Linked DNA regions of Homo sapiens. The protein of the gene in region 3 interacts with the protein of the main gene of each other region in a pairwise test. Each region holds a gene or a part of one and is shown on either strand. Other genes may lie near its edges.

Evidence for each region.
Region 1: the proteins of ERCC3 (region 3) and XIAP interact in binary tests that used the Homo sapiens proteins (3 or more experiments, as listed by UniProt).
Region 2: the proteins of ERCC3 (region 3) and CEP76 interact in binary tests that used the Homo sapiens proteins (3 or more experiments, as listed by UniProt).

The regions. Positions count from the first base shown.
Region 1 is NC_000023.11:123,901,412-123,905,066, reverse strand, and holds part of XIAP (E3 ubiquitin-protein ligase XIAP), read right to left. Parts: intron 1-3,655.
Region 2 is NC_000018.10:12,692,626-12,696,280, reverse strand, and holds part of CEP76 (centrosomal protein of 76 kDa), read left to right. Parts: intron 1-929; coding exon 930-1,027; intron 1,028-3,655. UniProt on the Homo sapiens protein: Centrosomal protein involved in regulation of centriole duplication. Required to limit centriole duplication to once per cell cycle by preventing centriole reduplication.
Region 3 is NC_000002.12:127,259,943-127,263,274, reverse strand, and holds part of ERCC3 (general transcription and DNA repair factor IIH helicase/translocase subunit XPB), read left to right. Parts: intron 1-1,928; coding exon 1,929-2,047; intron 2,048-3,332. UniProt on the Homo sapiens protein: ATP-dependent 3'-5' DNA helicase/translocase. Binds dsDNA rather than ssDNA, unzipping it in a translocase rather than classical helicase activity. Component of the general transcription and DNA repair factor IIH (TFIIH) core complex.

The DNA.
Region 1 (3,655 bases), on a different chromosome or scaffold from region 3:
TTGGGCATAATAAAAACTATAGGCTCAAACATGGAATGCATCAGAGATAAGAAGATAAAGCACTTACCCTTAAGAAGCTTGGTCTAATGGGCAGGGCAGAAACCAGTCCCAAAATAGTGTAAAAAGCAAAATGCTCAGCCAGGCCTGGTGGCTCACGCCTGTAATCCCAGCACTTTGGGAGGCTGAGGCGGGCAGATCATTTGAGGTCAGGAGTTCAAGACTAGCCTGGCCAACATGGTGAAACCCCATCTCTACTAAAAATACACACAAAAAAAATTAGCTGGGTGTGGTGGCGCATGCCTGTAATCCCAGCTACTCGGGAGGCTGAGGCAGCAGAATCGCTTGAACCTGAGAGATAGAGGTTGCAGTGAGCTGAGATTGTGTGCCACTGCACTCCAGCCTGGGCGACAGAGCGAGACCCTGTCTCAAGAAAAACAAAACAAAACAAAATAAAACAAAACAAAACTCTACCAGCACCAGGAGTAGATAAGAAGGAGCTCCTAACTCTGCTGTGGGTGCGGGAGAAAACTTGAAAGAAGTGACTTCTGAGCTGAACCTTGAAACATGAGTTCACAAAGTAGATTCAGGGAGTTGGGGGTAGAGTGGGGAATGGGACTAGGTATACAGATAGAGAAAACGTACTCAAGGCAGAGGAAAAAATACAAGTAAAGAAACGGCACTATAAGCTGATTTATATTATAAGAAAGCATCAACACCAAAAAAAGTCAGAATGAAGTGTGTATTTCATGCCAAAAAAATCAAAAGGAGAACAAGTAATTTCCACATTACTTTTAGATGTAATGCTACAACGAGTTAAAAACAAACAAACAGGCTGGGCGCGGTGGCTCACGCCTATAATCCCAGCTCTCAGGGAGGCAGAGGCGGGAGGATAGCTTGAGCCCAGGAGTTCGAGACCTGCCTGAGCAATATAGTGAGACCCCGTTCTCCACAAAAAGGAAGAAACAAACAAACAAACAAAGCAACAACAATACTGACACCTAGAGTAGTCAAATTTATAGAGACAAAAAGTAAAATGGTAGTTGCCAGGGGTTGGGAAGAGAGGGAATGGGGAGTTGTTTAATGAACATGTTTTTATTATTATTATTATTTTTTAAAGATAGGGTCTTGCTCTGTATCCCAGGCTGGAGAGCAGTGGTGCAATCACAGCTCATTGCAGCCTTGAGCTCCTGGTCTCAAGCAATCCTCCTGCCTCAGCCTCCCAAGCAGCTGGAACTACAGGCGTGTGCCACCACGCCTGGCTGTTTAATGGATGTAGAGTTTCGGTTTTGCAAGATGAAGAGTTCTGGAGGTTGACTGTGCAACAATGTAAATGTACTTAACACTACGGAACCATACACTAAAAATGGTTAAGATGGTAAACTGTATGTGTATTTTATCACAATTTTTTAAAATCTAAAAAAAACAAAAAACAAAACAAAAAAAAAAACTGAAACAAACCCCAAAACACTGGACCAGAAGTCAGGAAATCTGAATTCTATTCCCAACTATCGGCGTGATCCTAGGCAACAGCCCATCTGTACTTCAGGTTCCCAATTAAGGTCATAAAAGTTATAAAATGGGCTGGGTGCAGTGGTTCATGCCTGTAATCCCAGCACTTTATGAGGCCGAGGCGGGCAGATCACCTGAGGTTGGAAGTTGGAGACCGGCCTGACCAACATGGAGAAACCCCGTCTCTACTAAAAATACAAAATTAACAGGGTGTGGTGGCACATGCCTATAATCCCAGCTACTCAGGAGGCTGAGGCAGGAGAATTGCTTGAACCCGGGAGGTGGAGGTTGCAGTGAGCCAAGATTGCACCATTGCATTCCAGCCTGGGCAACAAAAGTGAAACTCCGTCTCCAAAAAAAAAAAAAAAAAAAAAAAATTATAAAATAATCTTTAAGGTTCCTTTGGTTCTGATTGTTTGTGATACCATATCATCTCATTTTTTTCTATATTATTTCATCCTTGTATAAAGCCACTAACTTGAGATGGTGATATTCTGGGCATAGATCTTTTCCCCTCAGACCAGTAGTTTACCACTGGCAATTACTTCCCTCTTGGCTTAAAGGTAACTACTGGATTCTACATACTTCTCTACAGCGCCTTTCCCCTTCTCCTCCCCACAAAGCCCTCTTCTAGGTCAGAAGGTTACTGGCACATGAGCAATAAAGGCTAGATAACTTTTGATGTTATTTGCTAATATTTGTAATTATTTAAAACCTCTTCTAGAATAAACTGATGTTATTCATTTTACTATTAGAGCAGATTCATATGGAAAGACAGATAAGAAATGAATATGGGTTATTTGATTTTTATATTATATACAGTAATATATATACACATAAAGATTAAAATAAGTACTTTAGTACATATACTAAATAAAGGGCTTTATCTTACACTACATAATTTTTTCAAAGAAAGAAAAAAAGATACTGATTCGGTACTATTTTTACAAGACCTTTTACTAGGGCATTCTCTGTTACACAGCCATTGGCAAAAAAGTTTAGCACTAAATCTAGGATTTCTCAGTAAGTGACAATGTTATATTTTCTCTAATAACCCTCACCTGCTTCACTTCAGTTAGCCCCATCCTTATTTTATATAAAATTAAAAGATTCTTAGTGCCAGTCTTTCCTCATCAGCTTTTGGGAAGACAAATAGGCAGCAGTCCCAGCATGAGTAGAGAGCCTGTATCAATTACTTGCCTCTCAATTTAGTGAGACTGAGGAGAGTTCAAATGAATTCCAACCCTTAGGCTCTCCTTCCCACACCATCCTAGTTTGTAGTCTCAGTGATAATATGAGCGCCCATTGACTCCTGTTAGATAGAGAAAAGACACTCTCCCTAATGCACAGTCTCTTGATCTCTTCCTATTACAACCTGCTAAACCCTTCTGCTGCAGATACATTAAGGTTTGAAAACTAACAATTTATGGCCAAACAATTAAGCGCGTGTTTAAGATGCAGGAAAAAAATGACACAATTGCTTGTGTTTCTGTTATAGTAGAAAAATTCCAGCCCGGCCAACTTGGCGAAACCCTGTCTCTACTGAAAATACAAAAAATTAGCCGGGCGTGGTGGCACATGCCTGTAATTCCAGCTACTCGGGAGGGTGAGGCAGGAGAATCGCTTGAGCTGGGGAGGCGGAGGTTGCAGTGAGCCAAGATCGTGCCATTGCACTCCAGCCTGGGCGACAGAGTGAGACTCCGTCTTAAAACAAATAAAAAATTAAAAAAAGAAAGAAAGATGACAATTAAAGGGTTTATTTTACCACCACCAAGATAAGTGGAGCTTGTGTAAGTTTTAAATAAATGCATCTATAAGGAAAAAATTGGAAGCTTTCCATTGATTCTTACATCAATGAATATAATTTTAAATATCATTAATGTTCATACTGTTTCATAACTTATACGATTATCTGAATAGTGTTTCAAAAGCACTTGAAATATCTTAAAGATCAAAAGGATCTTAAATGCGTCAAAAATAAGTAAACGTTTAAGTTTTTTTAGCAGTAGGAGAATTCTCATCTTTTTGGAGGGAGGATGGTCAAGAGCTTAGAGAACTATTACAGGTAAAGTACCCAAAAGTGTACTCAGTTTGAAACTTCTTCTTTAACCTTCGATGTTGTTGGCAAGCACTACAGTGTCCATCA
Region 2 (3,655 bases), on a different chromosome or scaffold from region 3:
TGCCCGCCTCGGCCTCCCAAAGTGCTGGGATATTGGCGTGAGTCACCGCGCCCAGCCAGTAATTTAGATTTTAATAAGTCATACCAAGAATGTATTTTTCTTTAAATAAAAATTATAGAAAAAGTGTCCTTTATGTAAGAAATTTATTTTCAAAAACAATACCCAATTTGTCTTCAAAAATAGGCCTAACATGATAATCGTAGCAGTGACCTGGAAACAAGCAGATTCTGATTCACTGAAGAAACATTAAATCGTTTTGATGTGAAGTATATTTGTTTTCTAGTTCTTTAAATCCAGGCATGGATTGAAAATTTCTACTCAGCCTGTAATTGGATAATGGGGAGTGACAAATGGGAGTTACTATAAGTGACAATATAAATGCTTTCTAATTTTTAGTGTGTGTGTGTGTGTGTGTGTGTGTGTGTGTGGAGAAGGAATGAGGTGTTAACAGTTGCTTTGACTTTGAATTTAATGTAAGTCTGGTTGATATTATACATTTAATTAAGACAAAAATTAAGAGTCTCAAATCCTTTAAGTCAGAAAAGTTTCTTAAAACCTGTTAGAAAAGCCAGGTGTAGTGGCTCATGCCTGTAATCCCACCAAGCACTTTGGAAGGCTGAGGCAGGAATATCACTTGAGCCCTGGAGTTTAAGACCAACCTGAATAACATAGGGAGACCCCATCTCTACTTAAAGAAGAAAAAGAGTGTCAGAAAGCTAAGAAAATAATCTCCTTATAATTAAACACCTTTGTTTAAAAAAATTGATTTGGTTCATTTTAATATGAATATTAAAGGTAATGTTGAATGTTATCTTTATTCCATGTAAGTGATAAAACACCCAAGTGCCTAAATTATTTTGGTTAGACTTTGGTTGACTAAATATATATAGTATTGAAATCTCTGAAGTTCAAAATATTTATGTTTATAGGCACAGAATCAAAAGTTTCTGTGGGAATTTTAAATATAAAACTTGAAATGTATCCACCACTCAATCAAACGTTATCTCAAGAAGTAGTGAACACACAGGTAAATACTTATGAGTTTCTCTTTTTTTGTGTGTTTGTTTTCATAGTAGTATATTTACCTGTTGATCCTAGAAAGCACTCTATTTTTAGAAAATTACCATTTATTACTTTCTAGATTAGCACTCAAAGGTTCACAAAAAGGATGAGGAAGAAAATAAAGACAAGATTGTTTTCCTAGCAGAATCTGTAGTCTAGTTTAGGAAATACGATGAACATTTATTGAGACAGCATAAGAATTACAGGATAGGCCGGTGGCTCACGCCTGTAGTCCCAGCACTTTGGGAGGCCGAGGCGGGCGGATCACAAGGTCAGGAGATCGTGACCATCCTGGCTAACACGGTGAAACCCCGCCTCTACTAAAAATACAAAAAAAAAAAATAGCCGGGCGTGGTGGCAGGCACCTGTAGTACCAGCTACCCGGGAGGCTGAGGCAGGAGAATGGCGTGAACCGGTAAGAGGAGCTTGCAGTGAGCCCAGATCGCACCAGTGCACTCCAGCCTGGGCAACAGAGCAAGACTCCATCTCAAAAAAAGAAAAAAAAAAAAAGAATTACAGGATAAAGCTGAAGAAGATCAAAGAGTAAAGTGCAACCTCAGTGGGATGGGATTTTAACGTTCTTTCGCAGGCGTTTATTGAAAGCTTGCTGCTTATGTCTTTTCTGCTCTGTTCTCTCAGGGTAGAAGTGCTTGCCACTTTTAGAGTGTGTTTGGAGAGGCTTTTTTCCCTAATTCCACTGTCAGGTCTCTGATGAATTACTTTCTTCCTGGGTCTTAAAAGATCGGCAGATTTTTTCATTCCTTCACATTGGATTTGCCATCCATGTTTAGTTCTTGCCAGTCTTTAGTTTGGAGGTTCTCATTATCTGCTGACTTGCCGGGATGGCACTTGTGGAATGGTTCTCCTTGATTACATACACCACCCTTTACTCCACCCTGCCTGTCATATTGTTCCTTTTACAGACCTGTGGTTAGACGCTAGTGCTTCTCCCTCAGGCAAACAATGTCCTGCCCTGTTTTCTTTAAACTTTTTTTCCTTCCTTTTGTAAACTCTCATCTCCCTCTAATCTCTAGCTTCTGACATGTGTCATGGGTGGTATATATACCTGAAACCACATAGTGAGAACCAACTTTGATGTTACTCAAATAAATACCCAGCCCTGTGGGAGGCTAAGGTGGGTGGATCACTTTTGAGTCCAGCAGTTTAGGACCAGCTTGGGCAACATAGTGAGACCCTGTCTCTACAAAAATTTTAAAAAATTAGTCAAGCATGGTGGTACATACTTGTAGTCCCAGCTGCTTGGGAAGCTGAAATGGGAGGATTGCTTGACCCAGGAATTTGAGGTTACAGTGAGCTGTGATTGTACCACTGCACACTAGCCTGGGTTACAGACTAAGACCCTGTCTCTTAAATAAATGGTGTATACACACATATACATTATGTGTATACGTGAGGGGTTTTTTTGTTTGTTTTTTTCAGACAGAGTCTCGCTCTGTCGCCAGGTTGGAGTGCAGTGGCGCAATCTTGGCTCACTGCAACGTCTGCCTGCCGAGTTCAAGCAATTCTCCTGCCTCAGTCTCCTGAGTAGCTGGGACTACAGGTGGGTGCCACCACGCCCAGCTAATTTTTGTATTTTTAATAGAGACAGGGTTTCACCATGTTGGCCAGGATGGTCTCGATCTCTTGACCTCGTGATCTGCCTGCCTCGGCCTCCCAAAGTGGTATACATGAGTTTTAATCATGTTATTCATATATTTATGTGACATATAAAGTAAATGTTTGGGCTCTACTTTTTTGGGGTAGTAGCTTGTTTTTTTTAATTAAATTTTATTTTTTTAGAGACAGCATCTCACTCTCTCAGGCTTGAGTGCAGTGGTGTGATTATAGCTCACTGAAACCTCAGACTCCCAGCCTCAAGCAATCCACCTGCCTCAGCCTCCCAAAACATTGGGATTGCAGACATGGACCATTGTGCCCCACCAGGTTCTCCTTTTTAAACTTAACATTATTTTATATGTATTTTCTTATATTTCCACTGTCATATTTATAATTTCTAGTGACTAAAACATAAGTTTATTCTATTATCTGATAAATAAATTGCTTCTAATTTTCTCTTTAAAATTGCACTATTAAAACTTTTAGCCAGGCTAATTAATCTGTAATCCCAGCACTTTGGGAGGCCAAGGTAAGAGGATCACTTCAGGCCAGGAGTTCAAGACCAGCCTGGGCAACATAGGTAGACTTCATCTCTACAAAAATTTTTAAAAATTAACTGCACATGGTGGTGCATTCCTGTAGTCCCAGCTACTGGGGAGGCTGAGGTGGGAGGATCGCTTAAGCCCAGGAATTCGAGGCTACAGTGAGCCATGATCATGCAGTAGCACTCCAGACTGGGTGACAGAGCAAGACCCTGTCTCTTAAAAGAAATTAAAGTCAGAAATATGTATGGATCCTAAATAGATGTCAAAATGTGCTAGACACTGTTCTAGACACTGGAGATGTAGCTGTGTATAGGGCAGCAGACAGCTAGACAGCTTGCTCTCAAGGAGTTTAGATTCTAGTGCAGGAGAAACAATAAGTCAGCAAACAAAATAATCAGATAGTAGAAGGTGTTTTATGGAGAATTATTACA
Region 3 (3,332 bases):
AGCAATATCATTAAAATTGCCAAACTGCCCAAAACAATCTACAGATTCAACACTATTCTATCAAATTGCCAACATCATTTTTCACAGAATTAGAAAAAAAACTTATAAAATTCATCTGGAACCACAAAAGCACCTGAATAGCCAAAGCAATCCTAAGCAAAAGGAACAAAGCCAAAGGCCTCACAGTATCCAACTTCAAACTATGCTACAGGGCTTACAGTAACCAAAACAGCATGGTACTGGTACAGAACAGGCACATAGACCAATGGAGCAGAATAGAGAGCTCAGAAATAATGCCATGTACCTGCAGCCAACTGATGTTCAACAAAATTGGCAAAAATATGCAGTGGGGAAAGTACTCCCTATTCAATAAATGGTGCTGGGGAAACTGGCTAACTGTATGCAGAAGGATGAAACCAGACCCCTGCCTATCACCACATACAAAAATCAACTCATAATGGATTAAAGATGTAAATGTAAGACCTCAAACTATAAGGATCCTCGAAGAAAACCTAGGAAATACAATATTCACAAAGTTGTGCAACTATCAACACAATTCATGTTTAGAATATTCTCATCAGCTCCCAAAAGAAACCCTCATCCATGCACAGCCACTCCTAATTTCCTCTTGTTCCCAACCCCCAGCTCTAGGCAGCCCCTAATCTACTTTGATGTCTGTAGGCCTTTTCTGGACATTTCATGTAAATGCAGTCAGACCACTTGGGGCCTTCTGTGACTGGTTTCTTTTCACTTAGCATAATGTTTTGTTTGTTTGTTTTTTGGAGATGGAATCTCGCTCTATCGCCCAGGCTGGAGTACAGTGGGGCGATCTTGGCTCACTGCAACCACTGCCTCGCAGGTTCAAGGGATTCTCCTGCCTCAGCCTCCCGCGTAGCTGGAATTACAGGCATGAGCCACCACGCCTGGCTAATTTTTCTATTTTTAGTAGAGATGGAGTTTCACCATGTTGGCCAGGCTGGTCTCAAACTCCTGACCTTGAGTGATCCACGCCCACCTCAGCCTCCCAAAGGGCTGGGATTACAGGACTGGGTCACCACACCCGGCAGCATAATGTTTTCAAAAAGATTATCTATATTGTAGCATCTGTCAGTACTTCATTCTTTTTTATTGCTAAATAATATTCGATTCCATGGACATACCACATTTTATTTATCCACACATCTGTTGATGGACATTTGGGCTGTTTCCACTTTTTGGCTCTTAGAAGAATTCTGCTATGAAATTCATGTACAAATTTTTGTGTGGATATAGTTTCATTTCTCTTGGATTTATGCCTGGAAGTGGAATTGCCAGGTCATGTGGTTATAACAGTGTGTTTAACATTTTGATGAACTGCCAGACTGTTTTCCAAAGCAGCCGCATCATTTACATTCTCAACAGCAATGCATGCGGGTTCTAGTTTTTCCACATCCTTGACAACAGTGGCAGTTATCTGCTTTTTTGATTGTAGCCATCCTCGGAGAGGGGCGTGAGGTGATAATCTCATTGTGCTTTTGAGTTGCATTTCCCTGGTGATTAATGGTGTGGAGCATCATTTCATGTGCTTACTGGCTATTTTTATATTGTTTTTGGAGAAGTAATCTGTTCATATTCTTCTCTCATTTATAATTAATTTGTCTTGTTGTTGAGTTTCAACAGTTCTTTGTATAACCTAGATACAAATCCCTTATCAGATATATGCTTTCCACATTTTTTTATTCTGAGGATTGTTTTTTCACTTGATGGTGTCCTTGGAAGCACAAAAGACTTCCAAATTTTGATGCAATCCCATGCCAAGTTCAGGTGGTAACCCCGAGTGCAGGGCTTTTCCACTCCAGTGCTTGCTTTTGAGCCTGGGACCCTTAGCTCTTGGCATTCTAATGGCTAATGTTGTCTTCTTTATTGCCGTTTCTCATTTTTTCCTGCAGGGATGGTTGCAGAAGAGTACAATGCCTTTTTCTACTCACTGGTATCCCAGGACACACAGGAAATGGCTTACTCAACCAAGCGGCAGAGATTCTTGGTAGATCAAGGTTATAGCTTCAAGGTACATATCCATTTGGCTTCTGGTTAGACTAGGACCAAGGCCTTCTTGATACCCTGGCCTCCAGGAGAAGCGAGGGCCACTGTCAGCAGGCAGGCACCAAGCATTAGGAGATTAGAGGCCTTGCCTCAAACTCCCTTTATCTCTGCATGAATCTCTGAGGGCAGCTGTTGGTGGAAAGTGTGCCGTCCTGGCAGGACTGAGGTGCCATGGCACTATGACCAGCACTGTGTGAATCTGAGCCCCGCAGGGCTGCTTTCTCAGGGATGCCTCTCTAGGTAGCTAGGAGAGCTCTTCCTTTCATCAGCTGGTAAGCTCCAGGCCTTAGTTTGCCTCAGTTTGCCTCCCAGACATCAGAGCTATCCTGTACTACAAATCAGGTATTTTAATAATTGGGAAATTCTAAAGCTTTGGCTAACTTTCACTGGCTGAGGCATTTGCTTTCTTTCCTGTTACACAAATATTACGTTTATGTCAGTATTTGGTGTCCAGAGGGCTTTATATTTTGGGGATAGATGGAGGGTTCTAGAAGTAGGGGAATTAAATTCCCCCTATGGTCCACTAAAAGGACATCCCTAGAACATTAGACTCCCAGGTTCTTGATTGCAAAAGACTGCAATCCAGGCTGCCTTTTGAGATACGTTTTTAATGTGTCTCTTTATGCATTGGTGAGAGTTCCCATTATTGGCCTTAGGAGGACAGGGTTGTCTGACCTTCCCTCTTTTAGCTAGAGGCAGTGACACTTCAGACCTCTCATGCTGGCCTAGAGGACAAGATGCTTGGGTTTTGAGCCCAGTTTTTTGGAGGATTTGCATCATGACCTTTTTATCCATCCATGAAAATCCCTGTTGGTAATAGCATTCCTACCTCCTGATTCCTGCCGAGCTGTGAGGGTAAGAGGAGCACCAGGTCAGAAAGAGCAATTCTTTGAAAGGTGACCTCGACAAAAAGGCACAATGCCATGCCGTAGTAGTTTGTGTTGGTTGGAGCTGTGTCTTCGGTGCTGCCTGTTGAGGAGCAGTGGTTGGAGTTCCCAGAGTCATGACGTGGAGTGGCTGGGCCTGGGCAGATGTGCACATCGTCTGTACTCTGGATCCCTGGCCCAGAAGGACTCAGATCCTTACTTCTAGGAATTTTCATTTAATGAACATTATGAGAATTGGAGGGAAGGAGAATTCCCTTTACAGAATCAACCCAAGTTTTCTGCAGGGATAGGGAGCCCTTGTAGTAAGTTATCCCCATAGAAATGAAAACCCAGTCTCCACCATGCTGTTCTTACTCTCTCAGA